Linked DNA regions of Homo sapiens: region 2 is linked to region 1. Evidence: fine-mapped expression QTL. Tissue or cell type: tibial nerve. Region 1 holds a variant in brackets; the other region holds the start of a gene. All regions are shown on one strand. Distances are between the middles of the regions.

Region 1 (8,099 bases):
AGATATCTGCACACCCGTGTCCACAGCAGCATCATTCACCAACACACGAAGGTAGAAGCAGCCCAGGTGCTCACGGATGGATGAACCTGGTGTATCCAGGCCTGGCGCGGCGGCTGGGCGAACCTGGTGTATCCAGGCCTGGCGCGGCGGCTGGGCGAACATGGTGTAACCAGGCCGGGCGAGGCGGCTGGGCGAACCTGGTGTATCCAGGCCTGGCGAGGCGGCTGGGCGAACCTGGTGTATCCAGGCCTGGCGAGGCGGCTGGGCGAACCTGGTGTATCCAGGCCGGGCGAGGCGGCTGGGCGAACCTGGTGTATCCAGGCCGGGCGAGGCGGCTGGGCGAACCTGGTGTATCCAGGCCTGGCGAGGCGGCTGGGCGAACCTGGTGTATCCAGGCCGGGCGAGGCGGCTGGGCGAACCTGGTGTATCCAGGCCTGGCGAGGCGGCTGGGCGAACCTGGTGTATCCAGGCCGGGCGAGGCGGCTGGGCGAACCTGGTGTATCCAGGCCGAGCGAGGTGGCTCACGCCTGTAATCCCATCACATGGAAGGCCAAGACGGGTGGACCGCTTGAACTCAGGAGTGCAAGACCAACCTGGCCAACAGGTGAAAATCCATCAATACAAAAAATACGAAAATTAGCTAAACATGCTGGTGTGCGCCTGTAGTCCCAGCTACTCAGGAGGCTGAAGTGGGAGGATTGCTTGAGCCCAGGGAGGTCGAGGCTGCAGTGAGCCATAATGGCGCCACTGCACTCCATCCTGGGCAACAGAGCGAGACCCTGTCTCAAAAAGAAAAAAGTGGCGTATCCATCAAGGGGAATATTATCCAGCCTCAACAACACCAACAACAACAACAAACACAGGAGGTCCTGACACAGGCTGCCACACAGCTCAGGCTTGAAGACATTATGCTGAGGGAAAGAACCGACACAAAAGGGCAAGTGCTGCCTGACTCCATGTTTGTGAGGCTCCCAGAGCAGTCAAAACCGCAGAGACAGAAAGCAGAATGGAGGGTGCCAGGCTGGGGGAAGGAGGGTGTGGGGAGTTTGTGTTTGCTGTTTCAGAGTTTCCGTTTGGGAAGGTCAAAAAGTTCTGGAGATTGGTTGCACAACAATGCGAATGTACTTACTGCCACTGAACTTGAACTGTACCTGGAAACATGGGAAGACGGTGTGGAAACAAGCCCCCAGTCAGCTGGTCTGGCAGCTGATTTGATGCAGATCAAGAGGGAAGTGAGGAATCGATAGGGAAGACTGTGATCACCCCTAATCGGCACAGACAGATAGGAGGTGTTAAGGGGGTTCAGAAGAGGTTAAGACATAGGAGAGATGGATAAGAAGGTTTTCCGTACTTCCGATCGAAATTCCAGAGGGGCTGGGCACAGTGGCTTATGCCTGTAATCCCAGCACTTTGGGAAGCCACGGCAGGTGGATCACTTGAGGCCAGGAGTTCGAACCCAGCCTGGCCAACATGGTGAAAACATATCTCTACTAAAAATACAAAAATTAGCCAGGCATGATGACGGGTGCCTGTAATCCCAGCTACTCGGGAGGCTGAGGCAGGAGAATCCCGGAGAACCTGGGAGGCAGAGGTTGCAGTGCAGCCAAGATTGCGCCACTTCACTCCAGCCTGGGCAGGAAAGCGAGACTCTGAAGAAAGAAAAGAAAAGAAGCCGGGCGCGGTGGCTCACACCTGTAATCCCAGCACTTTGGGAGGCTGAGGCGGGCGGATCATGAGGTCAGGAGATTGAGACCATCCTGGCTAACATAGTGAAACCCTGTCTTTACTAAAAATACAAAAACTTAGCCAGACGTGGTGGTGGGTGCCTGTAGTCCCAGCTACTCGGGAGGCTGAGGCAGGAGAATGGCGTGAACCCAGGAGGCGGAGCTTGCAGTGAGCAGAGATCATGCCACTGCACTCCAGCCTGGGTGACAGAGCGAGACTTGCCTCAAAAAGAAAAGAGAAGGGAAGGGGAGGGAAGGGGAAGGAAGGGGAGGGAAGAGGGAGGAAAGGAGGGAAGGAGGGAAGGAAGGAAGGGAGGGAGGGAGGAAGGGAGGGAGGGAGGGAAGGGAAGGAAGGATGGAAGGAAGGAAGGAAGGAGGGAAGGAGGGAAGGAGGGAAGGTGGGAAGGCGGGAAGGAAGGAAGGAATTCCAAGAGGTGGAAATAAATAAAACGGGGAGAGCCCACCAGCTCCCTGACAATATGGCTGAGAATTTTCCAGAACTGATAAAATATGGAAACTTCAGCCTCAAGAGTGCAGCACTCTCAAGCAGGAAGAATAAAAGCAGCCCATACCTAGCTGTCCCGTGGTACACTCAGAATGCTGAAGGAGAACTTGCTGGAGGCAGACCCCGCGAACGGCAAGAACAGGAGCAGATGACCGTCTCTGAAGTGCCGAGGCAGAGGCAGCAGCCGGACCCACACGCCCTGCTCCACTCCCACTTACGGGTGTGGGAGAAGCATCAGATCAGCAAAATGACTGCGCCACCACCCAGCTCCTTAGCAGAGCAACCTCCACAGAATACAGCTCAGAAAGAGGGGACGCCTGGGCTGCCAGAAAGAGTGGGGTGCAAACATGTGCAAACCTCAACGAGTGCTGGCTGTGTGCAACAAAGCCCTGTGGAAAGTGGAGGGTGATAAAGGCAAGGCAGACCTGAGTATTGGGCAGTCGTAATGATCTGTGAGCCAGGAGGGGCGTGATCAGGAGGAGGATGGAAACACTGGCTATCTTTGAATTCTAAATATACTTGTTAAAATTCTAAGAGTGACTATTTTAAAATAGAAATAGAGCATATAACTTCCACTTAACTCTCCAAGGAAAAAATAGAATGTCAGACTGAGCCAGAGCCATGGAAGAGTGCTCAGGCAGCGGGAGCTACACGTGCAAAGGCCCTGGGGAAGGAGGGAAGAGGCGCATGCCTGGCACTGATGTCAGTGCGGCTGGAGGCAGACGGGCGCAGAAAGGGGTCTGAGACGTGGCTGAAGGCAGCAGGACCAGACAGGATGGGGCCTCAGGGCCGTGGTTCTGAGCTTCATTCCAACAGCAGGAAAAGGGAGGCATGTTTGTAACCTGCAGGGAGGCGGGAGCCATGGACAGGATTGCATCTGTGACTTGCCAGCATCCCGCCGGCTCCCATGGGAGCAGACTGCCCTCAGGCCCCAGCGGAGGGAGGGAGAACAGACAGAACAATTTTGGCCCCTGGACATGGTGGCGGCAGGGGAGGTGGTGAGCAATGCAGGAAGGGAGACTTAGGAAGCAGTGCCTAGCTCCTCGGTGTGGAGGCAGTGAGGGGAGGGAAGAACACGGAGAGAGGCTGGCTCGGGGCTTGACAAAGTGGTGGGGTGTCCCACGGGAGGCAAAAGCAGATGGTGGGGGCGGGCGAGAGAGTCACGGTTCTTTCAGCCTCATCAAGTGTGTGTTTCTGAGGACGTGGAGGGCGGTGGGAGGCTGACGGTGCACAGACAGCGCGGGAGCGGGGGCGGGGGGCAGTCTTCATAGATGAGATGGGGCACGGCCCCTCCGGAGAGGAGGCCTCTCCTCGGGGAGAGGAGGGGATGACAGAGGCAGAGGTGGGGCAGCCAGGGAGGTAGGAGGGTGCTATGGACTGAAGTGTGGCCCCCCCAAATCCTTATGTCAAGCCGCAACCCCCAATGTGACTGATTTGGAAATAGGGTCTTTAGAAGGTAACTACGACCTTTACGAAGTCATAAGGGTGGGCCCTAATCCAACAGGGCTGTGGCCTTCCAAGAAGAGGAGGAGACACCAGAGGTGGGCGCAGCAAGGCCGGGAGAAGGTTTCATGAGAAACCAGCTCTGACACTGGTGGCACCTTGATCTTGGACTTCCAGGCTCCAGAGCTGTGAGAAAATAAAGGTCTATCGTCTAAGCTGCCCAGGCTGAGGTCTTCTGTTACGGTAACTTGGGCTCACTCATCCAGAGGGGAACCAAAAGCATGTGGGGTCCTGGCACCCACAGGCAAGCGCTGTCAAGAAAGAGGAAGCAGAAAGCATGTGCATGGCTGCTCCTTCAGAGCCTGCAGAAAACTGTGCAGACAGGGCACGGGCACAAACCCATGTGAGCAGAGAAGCATCTCTCCGGGTGCACACCCGCACTGCTGAGATGCACCTGCCCCCGCAGGGCTCAGATGTTCCCTGTGAGAGCAGTGCCATCCCCCACGCCTCCTGAGGCTGCCTGGGTCCCATAATGGCCACCGTGCCATCTCCTATCCCACAAGCCCTCCTAACCCTGCCTCTCCCTCGTCAAGAGGCAGGGGCTGTGTCCCCTCCCCTTGAGCCTGGCCAGGCCTTTGGGTCTCTGCTGACAGAGGATAGCAGAAGTGAGCTGGGTTAGCTTGGTGCATTACAGTTGCTCACGCCTGTAATCCCAGCACTTTGGGAGGCCGAGGCAAGACGGTCACTTGAGCGGAGGAGTTCAAGACCAGCCTGGGCAACATAGTGAGACCCCCCTCTCTACAAAAAAAAAAAAAATTGTTTTAATTAGCCAGGCATGGTGACACACATCTGTAGTCCCAGCTACTCACAAGGCTGAAGCAGGAGGATCGCTTGAGCCTAGGAGGTCAAGGCTGTAGTGAGCCATGATTGCACCACTGCACTCCAACCTGGGCAACAGAGCAAGACCCTCTCTCAAAAAAAAAAAAGGGACTGGGTGACTTGCAAGGCTATGTTCTGTCAACTGACAAAAAATAGACCAACACTGTAGATCAGGAAACAAAAGAGAAGGAGGGCCTCAGGAACTGCGGTTCAGGAGACACAGATCTAGCAAGGAGCTCAAACGTGTCTGTGCGGGGGAGGCCGGGCAGGGGCTTACAAAGGTTTGCTGTGAGTCTACACATCCGGAAGCTGTTGG[CA/C]TGGTCCATGACCGACGGTGGGGGCTTAACAGCTTAGGACAGCTCTGGCTGATGATCAATCTAGTCAGGTGTGCCTGTCTCCAGGAGACCAGTGATCAGGCCCGGTGTGAATGGTTCAAATCAAATGCAGCTGGTTCACGATCCGGCCCAGGTCAACAGATCAATTCTATCTGGCGAGTTGGACGGGGTCCAGCTCCTCTTGCCCTCCCAGTTCCTTTTTAGATAGCCCTGACATAACCATCTCCATTACGGATTTTCTTTTCACAGCTCTGGAGTCCACGCACCTCCATCTTGTTCTCCTGGGAGGCTGACTTGGGCTCCAGCCACCATGCCGAGTGAACCATGACAGAGGTGGCCCTCCAGCCCCCACTCGGGCACCCCGGCTGATGCCACGTGGACAGAGATGAGACAGTCCTGCTGAGCCCTGCCCAAATTGCAGATTTGGGAGCAAAATGCATGGTCTCTGGGATTTACGTCTGAGGGTCATTTGTGACGCAGCAACAAACAGATGCATTTTGCCGGTGGCGCATCCGCCCACGACGGAGCCTGGCTCAGCTCTGCAGGTGCGCTGCACCACCCCTGGTGTCCTGGCGTCACTGGTACCTGTTTCTCTCTCAAAGCTGTCCTGGTTTGGAAGATGAGTGGTACAGCCATCCCATCAATGCGAAACCAAAGGCCCCCTGAGGCAGCCCCCACAATTGAAGAGCAGGCTGCCCTCAGAAGGGGCCCAAACCCCTGCCATTGGACCAAACTGGCTGATTTAGTTTCCTGCCCTCTAAAGTGGAAATTAAGAAACTGACAATGAAAATGTCCCCTTTAGGCTGGGAGCGGTGGCTCATGCAGATAATCCCAGCACTTTGGGAGGCTGAGGCAGGAGAATCACTTGAGCCCAGGAGATGGAGGTTGCAGTGAGCTGAGATCGCACCACCGCACTCCAGCCTGGGTGGCAAAGCGAGACCCTGTCTCAAAAAAAGTCATAGCTTGACTTCCAGAGTCTTCCTGTCTGCCCGGTGCTGGTCGGTGGTCTCTGGAAGCCCTCCAGCTGCCACCTTCCTTTCTGTCCCTCCCCGGGAGGGATATGCAGGCCCAGAGGAGGTGACTCCAGGCGGGTGGTCCCAGAGGAAGGGGGCTCCACCCTTCCCCTGAGTAGTGGGGAATGTGGCTTCACCCTTCCCCTGCATAGTGGGGAATGTTTGGGATCTGCTGGGAGGGGTCTGCCATGGGGGCAGTGTGGGAAGGTACTCAGAAACCACCAGCACCCCCCACCCTGGTGGCCCTGGATTCTGGTGGGGCCACTGGAAGCCCGGACCCATGCAGGTCTCAGCAACATCACCCCCTCCACAGTGAGATCCGTGTCAGAGTGACCCGCCCCAACCAGTCCCAGGGCTCCCTGCTTCTCAGACCCTCCCTCCTTCCCAGCCCAGAGCCCCTCCCTCCGAAGCTTCCCTTCTCCTACTCCACCCCTGCTGTGGGGAGAAAAGACCTGCAGAGTACCCCAACAAGCCCTCTGCACTGGGGGAGGGGTGCACGTCCACTCACCCAGAAGGGGATTGGGAACCAGAAGCCAGGTGAGCCTCCCTGAGATCACAGGGCCTGATTCCGGGACCCCAGTGTCCAACACCTGCCCCCCCAGGGTGCTCCACAGCCCCTGCCTACACCTCAACCCCCCTCCACCTCCACATCTGTTCAGGTGATGTCCAACACCACCCGAATCTTACTGACCACTGGTGAGAAAGGGAGGGGCGAGGTTGGCCTCTGCATGGTAAAGCTGGGTAAACTGAGGCAGCACGTTCTGGGCAGCCCAGGACGCCCAGGTTCCCGCCAGCCCACGGCCTCTCCCGCCTTGCACGGGCTTCACAGTTTGCCAGCGAGGGCACAAACGGGGGCTCCGCGGGCCGGCGACTCACCGCGCCTTCCCTACCCCGCCCCAGTTTCTCCCATGGAGCTGGTCTGCAGGCCCGGCATCCACAAGCCCCACCGCACTGCACCGCTCTGCAGGTCGCTGGCGCCTGTTCTGGCCTCGCTGGGACCCCCACCCAGACGCACCCCACAGCCAACTCCACCGGACCCACGCTGCCCGAGTATTTTTAGCAGAGGGTCAGATGCCTCTTAAACCTCAGCTGAGACGTGAATTTCCTCCCTGACAGCTGCGGCCAGGAGCCGCACGTCCTGCCTGGCGGGCGTGGGCGGTTCTGACCTCGGAGGCACAGCTGCAGGGTCTGCAGTCCTCTGGGAACTTCCTCCTCCCAGGTGCCCCGATTTGGGCTCCCTGGGTGCCTCCGCCCCAGGCCGCCCACCAGGCGCTCACTTGCCCGGTCCTCCGTCTGGAGCCCCTCCCGATGGCCGTCGCCACCCACTCTCCTTCTCTGTCTGGAAGCTTGGAGAGCAAGAGCAGAGGCCTGGGTTCAGATTCTCAGGGATCTGGGTTCAAGTCCTGCCCCCACCCCCCTGCACTTGGGAAAGCTGCTACCTCTCAGAACCCGTTTCCTCCACTGTGAAGTGGAAGGAAAATTGCCCACCTGGGGGCTGTTGCGACTATAACCAGCCAGCGGTGCCTGCAGCACCCACAGACCCCCAGGCGTCTTCAGGGCTCCCTGTGCCCCAGCCAGCGCCAGGAGCCTGCAGGACCGAGAGGGGCCCTGGCAGGGCTGCACAGATATTCAGATGTTCAGACCTGAGGCCCAAGACCTGCCTGCCAGGACAGGGACGCTCCTGCCTGGGGATGCTGGGGTCCCAGAAAGTGAGAAGCAGTGGCCCAGCGCCCTCTGCTCTCACTTCCTCCCCACCAAGCACAAGTACTAATTACGCACACCTCAGCTCCCCGGGGGGGCCAGGAGGAAATGCCCGGCAGAGCCCTCCGTCCTACCCCGTGCAGCCTGGGTCTCCCTCCACGGGCCCAGCCTCTTCCACTGCTGCTTTCAGTTACCCGGCTTTGTAGGCGCAAACACCCTGTCTGTTTTCTTCTTTCTCAAGCCATCTTAGCTGCTTTTGATCTGTATTCTTCCATGTAAAATGTAGACTACATTTATTTATTTCTTTAAAAAAAAATTGAAGCCCAAATGAGACTCCAATTAGAATTGCATTGAATTTATTATGTCCCCATAATTCTCTGGGGAGAATTATGTGTTTATAACATTACGTTTTCCTGTCCGTTCTGTTAGGCTTGCTAAGTAAGCTGACATGTGATCTGCAAATGATGGCAGATGACTGTGTGAGGTGGCCTTGGGAATG
Region 2 (8,083 bases), 33 kb after region 1:
GGTGGGTGGATGGATGAATGGATGGGCAGATGGATGGATAAGGGTGGGTGCATGGGTGGATGAATGGGTGAGTAGGTGGGTGGATGGGTGGATGAGTGGATGATGGGTGGGTAGGCCGATGGGTAAGTGGATGGTGGGTGGATGGATGGATGGGTGGGTGGATGGATGAATGAATGGGCAGATGAATGGATGAGGGTGGGTGGGTGAGTGGCAAATGGGTGGGTAAGTGGGGGGATGGGTGCATGAGTGGATGATGGGTGGGTAGGTGGATGGATGGATGGGTAGGTGGGTGGATAGGTGGGTGGGTAGGTGGGTGGGTGGATGGACAAATAGATGGGCAGATGGATGGATGAGGGTGGGTGGATCAGTCGGTGGGTAGGTGGTTAGATGGGTGGATGAGTGGATGATGGGTAGGTGGATGGGTAGATGGATGAAGGGATGGGCAGATGGATGGATGAGTAGATGATAGGTGGGTAGGTGGATGGGTGGATGGGTAGGTGGATGGATGTGTGAGTGGATAGGTGGGTGGGTGGATAGATGAATGGATGGGCAGATGGATGGATAAGGGTAGGTGGATGAATGGGTGGGTAGGTGGGTGGATGGGTGGATGAGTGGATTAAGGGTGAATAGGTGGATGGGTAGGTGTATGGATAAGTGGATGGACAGATGGGTGGGTGGATGGATGAATGGATAGGCAGATGGATGGATGAGGGTGGGTGGGTGAATGGGTGGGTAGGTGGGTGAACAGACGGATGAAGTGTGGGTGTGTGTGGGAATGGATGGATGAATGGGTGAATGGGTACATAGGTGGGCAAGGTGGGTGGACATGGGTGAGCAGGCATGTTTTCACTTACTTCATTCTGTAACAATGTCAGAGATCATCTCAGGGCACCACAGTAGGATGCAAAATAAAATCTCAAAAGGGGAAAAAAGATAAAAAGCATTCTGGGTGCTGAACTGATGAAGGAAATGAACCCATGGCCAGGCTGCTGCTCAGGTGGACCCCAGGAAGCCCTTCTGGGCCTGCAAGTGGCCGCCTGCTGCATGCAGGGCTGTCCTGACTGCACGGCGGCGCCAACATCAGGCTGGGAGGATTTCTCTCAGAACGCCCACACCTGCCTGCCTGTTTCTAGCAGAACTCAAGCTGTCGGTGCCAAGGCCTGCTCTCCCCTCATCCCAATCTTCCAGCAAGAGGCAGAGGCAAGCTCTCCACAGGCCTACAGTGGCAGGGCCACTCTTGCACTCTGTGCCAGTGGCCAGGAACATGTGGCTCCGCCTGGGTGTGTCACAGTACCAGCCTGTACCTGCACGACCCTGTTCTCAGGCATCTGGGTACCTGCAGCTGGGGGCCGGCACTTGTGTACCCGGCTCCGAGGAAGGACCGACACCCAGGAGGGGAGGCTCCAGGCAGGCCATGGCTTCCAGGAAGCAGCTCCGGAAGCCGCAGGCAGTGGCTGCAGGTGGTGTGTTTCTGAGGCCAAATCGGTCCTCTCTTCAACCCCAGGGCCAGGAAGCAAGCTCAGAATAGGGCCAGGATGGAGTCTGGGAGCGCTGGAGGTACAGAGGGTTGAGGGTGAGCCACTGAAGGAGAAGAGGAGGGGGCCTCTGTATGTCTCAGAAAATCAGTGCTCAAGCCGGGTTGAACCCTGCTGCCCCGGGCATGGTGGGTTCAAGCCTGACGGAAAACCCCCTTTCAGTGTCCACATTTCCACCCTCCCAGACCTCTGACCTCGGCCTCCACTCCACACACACACACACACATACACACACACACACACAGACACACACTCTTAATCAGGGCCCAAAGCCCTCCTCTGCACTCCCTGCCGACCCCAGGGACTTCTCCAACCTCTCTCCAACTAAATCACATTCACCCCACCTTCTTCACCCTGCTCCGGCCTGTGCTGGCCTCTCTGGACCAGGTGTGCAGCTCGGAAGCACGACTGGGTGCAAGGGAGACAGCCCCAGGCAGGAGCGGCCCTGGGGGCGCTGGGCCTCCCTCCCCCATCAGGGCAGGAAAGGTGGACCCCTCGCCCACACCTGACCTCCTACTCCAGCCTCTGAGTAAGGCTCAGGACTCTGACTTTCCCCCAGGCAGGTGGACAGGGGAGGGGGCTGCAGGTCAAAGCTCACTCCCCACCAACCTCCTCACATTCCTCCATTCACTGGATCAACAAACACACCCACTGCCCAGCACCGCTGCCAGGCATCAGCTCCCAACGCAGATGAGTCAGCCCCGCCCGTGCCCTCCAGGGTGGGGTGGTACCAGGGCAGGCACCAATGTTCGGGTCCAGGAGTGCACCAGGAGACCCAAAGCCCAGCTTGAGGGAGGGCAGGAAGGCCTTCTGCTCTGGAAGGGGCCCTGGAGCCCGGTGTGGAGGGCCGGAGGCCGGCCTTCCAGGTGCATTCCAAGAATTGCAGAGTGCCTGTCTAGGAGCAGCGGCCGCCCAGGTTGGAGGGTGTCCAGTGAGCGCCTGCCTTGGCTGGCTCCTCAGGCACACCCGGGGCTGTGGCCTGCAGCTGCTCCTGCACTGGGGCTGAGCCAGCAAACTTCCGGGGCTGGGGCTGCTGGGCAGGGCAAGGTCCGCACAGGGAGCAGACAGACGCAGCCTGCAATTCGGCGCTTATCCCCACCGGAGCGGAGGCACACCAAAGCCAAAGGACACGCAGCTGGCCTCAAAGCAGAAGCTGCATCGGGGCTGGGAAGCCATTCAGGAGCCCTTTTCTCTCCCCTCGCCCTCACCCTGAGCCCTGGCCGCCACGGCCCACACAGCAGGCCCTCCGGAGAGAGATGTCAGGACTCCGAGTGGAGACACTTTATCCGCATGTTCTTGACCCTCATACAGCCCTTACGGGTACTTATTCTATTTTACAGATGGGGAAACTGAGGCTCCACAGAGTCATATCCGAGCCTGAGGCCGCACAGGGAGTGCTGGCGCCGGTTCTCAGGGCAGGGGTTGTGTCTGCTCTGTCACATGTCACACGGGGGCTCCCCCAGGCCTGCCTTCCTCTGCCCTCCCTCTAGCTGCCAGTGGCCCCCAAACCCCAGGCCTGGTGCGCTGCTTCCTGCAGCTCTGACTGAGGGTCAGACGTCAGAAGGGACTTCCAGAGCTGGGGTCTGGCTCTCATCCAACCAGGCTGGCTTTCAGAGCCGACTATGGGCACGCCCCATGCTGGTCAATGTCGGCGGTGGGGGGATGGGTGCCCCCCTCAATCTAGGAGACAGATGAGGCCGGACAGCAGAGGGGTGGCAGAGAAAACCCACCCCATTGCGACACCTCCGCGGCCCTCATGCAGCTGTCTCCACCAACCGGCGAAGTGCGGCTGCCCAAGACCGCCGAGACCCCATCAAGGGTGGAAGGGGGTCAGGCAGGGCTGCGGAGAGGAGGCCACATGGGTGGCCTGGTTGATGGGTAGGCTCTCTCTCCCCAAAGCCTGGGAAGAGCCATCTCTGCTGAGGGATCCCCGAACGCGGGGACTCCGGATCCGGCTGGCTGGAACGGGAGTCCCGGGCCGGGGCAGAGAGAGGTGAGCGGCGCCTGGGAGGCCAGTCCCACCGGAGGATAGGGGTGTAGGTGGACGGGAGGCGGTGGAGGGCAGGGACGGGGCGGACAGTGGGGGCTGAGGCGGGAGACGGCCCCGATCTGCGCGTCCCACCCCCATCTCCGCCCACCAGGAGCCAGGCCAGCAGGGACCGCGAGGGGGCGGCCAGGTTATTCACGGGAGTGGGGAGACCCCTTAAAGCGCCCTCAGGGACCGGCCACAGTGGGCGGGGCCACCCCCAGCCACCCACCTCCCCCCCCAGGCCCCGCCCCCGGCCCGCGCTCGCTCCCCACGTGGCCGCTGACGGGCGGGGCGGCACCTCCTCTTCCTCCCGCCCGCCCCGCCCGCCCCGCGCCCGCCAGGAGCCACCGTCCGAGCCTTGCGGAGCGCGGCAGTGGGCGCCGGCTGCCCGCAGCCCCTGACCCGGCCCCGGACGGAGCGCCGGCCGCACCACCGCCCTCTGGCCGTTGCCTCACCGGGTAAGTCCTTGGCCTCGGGGTCCGCTTGGAGCTTCAGGGGAAACTGAGTCCGGGAGGAGGCAGGGGCGTGCTTGGGTCCAGGAGCGAGGTTCCGGGCTGCGGCGTGTGTGCCCAGGTGGCGGCGGGCGGTCCGGCGGCGCAGGGTACAGTTCCCGGGCGGGGACCCCAGGGCGCCCCTGGCCCCCCCGGCTCCGCGCGCCCCGCTCGGGACTATGGTCCTCCGCGCCGAGGCACCGCCCGAGCGCGCACTGGCCGCAGAGTGGTGGGCCCAGGGTCGGCCGGGCCTACTCCCAGGGCAGGCGGGATTTCCGCGCCTCGCGGCTGCCACATCCTGACCATGAATCAGCCACAGTTGGGAAAATAAACTTCAACTTCGGGTCCGCCGCCCGGGTGGCACCCCGAGGTGCGCGCCGGCCTGCGGCCCCACCCTGACTGCTTGGCTTCCAGCTGCCCACGCGCAGGTGGGCGCACAGGGAGCCCTTCCCACCCCGCAACCGCTGGCAGGCTTAGGGGAATCAGCCTCCATCACAGCTCTCTGTTCCTTTTGGGTGGGGTAGGATCCAATCCCTGTACGCCCCCAGACCCACCCGTCAACCCTCTAACTGGGGAGTCGCCCCAGGAGTGACCATGACTAAGGAGGGGAAGGCGGGGTGACCAGCTGTGTCCCTGACCGTCCCCAATGCCCCCTGGGGAGCACAGGCGTGGGGGGTGGTCTGTCTGTCTGGGCCTTCTGGGGCTCAAGCTCCCCACCCAGGGCTCCCGCAGCTCAGCTGTGACCACAGCATTACTGCCCACTCCAGCTGGACACACCAGGAGGCAGAGAGGCAGAGACCCTGCCCAGGCAGGGAACCAGGAACCCAGGAACCGGGCCAGAGGTCAGGCACACCCAGAAGGCGCTGGACGTAGGAAATTCCCTTACTGCCAGCCCTGCCCCTCCGTCTGGCACTGGAATGGAGCAGGATACTCGCCCTCTTCCGGCCTCAGTTTCCACATCTGCACTCTGAAGGGTGGGACAGCAGCTCAGGCTGGGACCTGCTCCCTGCCGCCCTGCACTGGGAAGGTGGGGTCCCAGAGCAGTGCCTCAGACCCCGAGGGTGCCACCCAGCCAGGGGCTTTTGGGGTGTCGGTGCTCAGCCCCCAGTGCAGCAAATAGTAGCATTGGGTTCCAGGCCTGGGGTCTGAGACCTCACACTGCTCCCACCCCTACCAGGGCAGCAGCAATTTTCTGTTCTAAAAGCCAGGTTGGTGCAGTGGGCCCTGCCCAGGCCCTGCCCTCCCATCCCTGGACTGTCATGGGCCCTGCAGCCCGGCAAAGGGGATGTCGCTAGTGGGGACGGACCAAGTGGCCAGGTGCGACTGTAGCCTCCACAGCCAGGGCTCCTGAGTTAACCTTCAGGTGAGCGCCCACTTTGTGGAGGAGCTGACGGCTGTCAAGCGAATGACACACACCGCACATGTGGGGACGTGGAAGCTCCTACCTGAAATAGACTCTGCGCCTTCCATCAAAGTGCAGTTACTTCCTGGGTTGGAAAAGTTATGCGGTTCATGCAGGCTGCGGGAGGGGTGGGTGGTGACTGGAAAGTGATGCGGTGCTGCCTGTGGGTGTGGGGCAGGACGCAGCTGGCCCAGCTCTGGACGGGGACAGTGAAGTAAGCTCAAGCCCCTGGCTTTTTGCTGGTGCCTGGAGGTCAAATTTCCCTGTAGTCAGGAATGAGACCTGACTCCCTGCTGCCAGCCCCTCCCCTACCTCCATCTTGCAAACAGCAGGTGTCTGATAGGTGTGTGGTTCATGGCCCAGTGGACACATTACATTGGAGAAGGCACACCCACCTCTGTTTTCAGGATGGTGGACGGGAAGGCCGGGAGGTGGAGGCCACATAGGAGCCAGTCTCTGGAGGGTGGTCCCCAGGGGCCACAGCAGACCCAGGCCTAGTGGACACCTAAAGTCAAAGACTAAGTTCTACCAACGGTGGGAAGGAGAGAGGGCAGGGGCACGGGCTCCCCGTCGCTGGAGGGGTGAGCAGGGTCCAACCACCTGGCCCCCTGTTAGAGAGGCTTCCACTCCTGCCAGCCTCACCCTAGGAGGGAGAGTCCTGCCTGGTCTGCCTCTGAGCACCCAGACAGCCTGGGTCCTGAGCTGGGGTGAGGTCTGCTCACACAGCTGCCCCCCAGCCCAGTGCCGGTATACCCTGGCAACCACCAGGCCAGGAGAGCAGGGCAGACCGGTGGTGCCTGTCCTCTCCTGAGGGGCCGTCCTCTCTCACAGCCCTTTCTAAGCTGTAATTAAATAAGGAACCACAGGGGTTGCTTAGGGTCGCCCCTCTGAGGGCTCATGTCAGTCCCCGAGGGCCAGCCTCAGGCCGGGTCTGTCCACTCACCATTCACGCCAGCCTGGGCAGGGTCTGTGTGCTGGGTGAGTGGGTGAGGAGGAAAGGAATGAGCCAGCCTGCGGGGTCCCTCCGCACGGTCTCCCACCCTCATCCCTCCCAGTGCGACGTGGGTCCTGCAGGAGCGTTCATTTCACAGGTGAGGCGCGGGACAGTCGGTGCCATTTTACACTCAGTGCCATCCATTCTGCCAGGAGGTGCTGATAAAGCCCCTACTGTGTGCATCTGCCCTTGTGCCCAGAGCCTGGAGCCCAGCCCCGCTCAGCACGGTGCCAGGCAGGTGCAGGGCACTTACTGGGGGTCAGGGTGCAAATGGGCTGGCCCCACAGAGTAGCTGGAGGCCGAGGCCCCCCAGCCCTTGTTGCTACCACTGGGGTAGGCTCAGGGTGCTGGCACTGCCACTCTGGGAATAGGACAGGCCTGTCCTGGTCAAGTAGCCATTACCGGGCCTCCAAACTCGGGGGTTGGTGGGGCAGGAATAGGCCCGCCCTCCAGGCAACCACCTGTGTCACTCCAGAGCAGCCCATGCAGACAGACAACTGCCCAAGGGCCAGCCTGGACCCCGGAGCCCTCCCAGCCAGTCGGCCTGGGTCACAGCCTGGGTGGAATGACCAGTGTGGTCACAGCCCAGATGGGATGACTAGCGTGAAGGCCCTGAGGACCTTGCCACGCCAATGGCCAAGGGCAAGGGCCAAGGCTGCTTTCCTCTTTCGCCTGCAGCTTTTCCCAGAGGCAGCAGGGAGGGAGAGAGAGGTACCAGGAGAGTCCTGAGAGAAGGGCCAGCCTGGGCTGCCCCGAGCCTCTGTGCCCTCAGTTCACTCCTGTTCTCACCCCAGAAGGGTGACTGGCCGTGGCTGGGGCACCCTCCATCTCCCTCAGCCCCAACCTCTGTCTGTTGGAAATGGCATGGAGACCCAGAAGGAGCAGATGGGCACCACTGGAGGCCTGGCCAGGCTCCTGGCCGCCGATCAAGGCCTTTGCAGGGTCAGAGGGACATGGGAAGATGCTGCCAAGGCCCCTGGCCCTGGTGCCCTGGGCAGGGACCCTGTGCTCCCGTGCTGTGACAGCGTTATACCACCCCACCTGCTTCCTGTGACCTGGACACAGTCTGAGCACCCCAAGGTCCAAAGTGGGAGAGGTGGGGTGGGGGAGAGGGAGTGGGGTGGATTGGAGGGCTGTCCTACTGTTACAGGGCTCTGCCCCGGGCCCACCTCACAGTGAAGGCAGAGGCCCCCAGGCAGCCCTTGGTGGGCCAGAACTCAACCAGGAGCCACACTGGGGGCGGAGGGCAGGCTGTCTGCTTCCCATTTTGCAGACGAGGGCTAGTGTCAAAGCCTAGCTTTGAGGCTAACCCAGGGCACAGTTGAGGAGGGAGGGAGAGGGAAGCAGTGGCCGCTGAGCACACCAGCCCCGGGTAGTGGCTTTTCTGTATCATCTCCAAGCCCCCATTCAGCTGCTGTGGGCAGAGGCCAGCCCCAGCCCCTCGCTCTGCCCAGCGAGTGGCCAGCTGCCCAACACGCATGGAGTCCCAGTGGGCATGGCCAGTGGTGCAGGGGTTTGTTCGTGCCTGAGCTGTCCTGGCCCTCGCCGGGTCGGGGGTGGACGTGGCCAGCTGTGCGAGGAGGGCCAGCATCCCACTGGCCTCCATCTCCCCATCTGTACCTGGGTCCTTGC

Evidence for each region. PIP is the estimated chance that this variant, and not a neighbour inherited with it, causes the effect.
Region 2: it holds the start of INF2, and the variant in region 1 is fine-mapped to the expression of INF2 in tibial nerve (GTEx, PIP 0.97).

What each region holds. Positions count from the first base shown.
Region 1 is chr14:104,653,179-104,661,277 of GRCh38, forward strand. It overlaps LINC02280 (long intergenic non-protein coding RNA 2280), which reads right to left. Exons shown (of 2, transcript NR_135293.1): 2 at 7,942-8,099. Among named protein-coding and RNA genes, the nearest start is that of LINC02280, 8.3 kb to the right of the region's middle. RefSeq lists enhancers at 1-249, 2,667-3,167, 3,168-3,668, 3,885-3,994, 5,145-5,274 and 3 more. The variant CA/C (reference allele first, on the strand shown) is at 4,868.
Region 2 is chr14:104,685,718-104,693,800 of GRCh38, forward strand. INF2 (inverted formin 2) reads left to right here and starts at 3,901. Exons shown (of 23, transcript NM_022489.4): 1 at 3,901-4,022. RefSeq lists enhancers at 1,895-2,882, 2,883-3,872, 7,827-8,083 and silencers at 3,565-3,824, 3,925-4,014, 4,035-4,274, 4,365-4,414.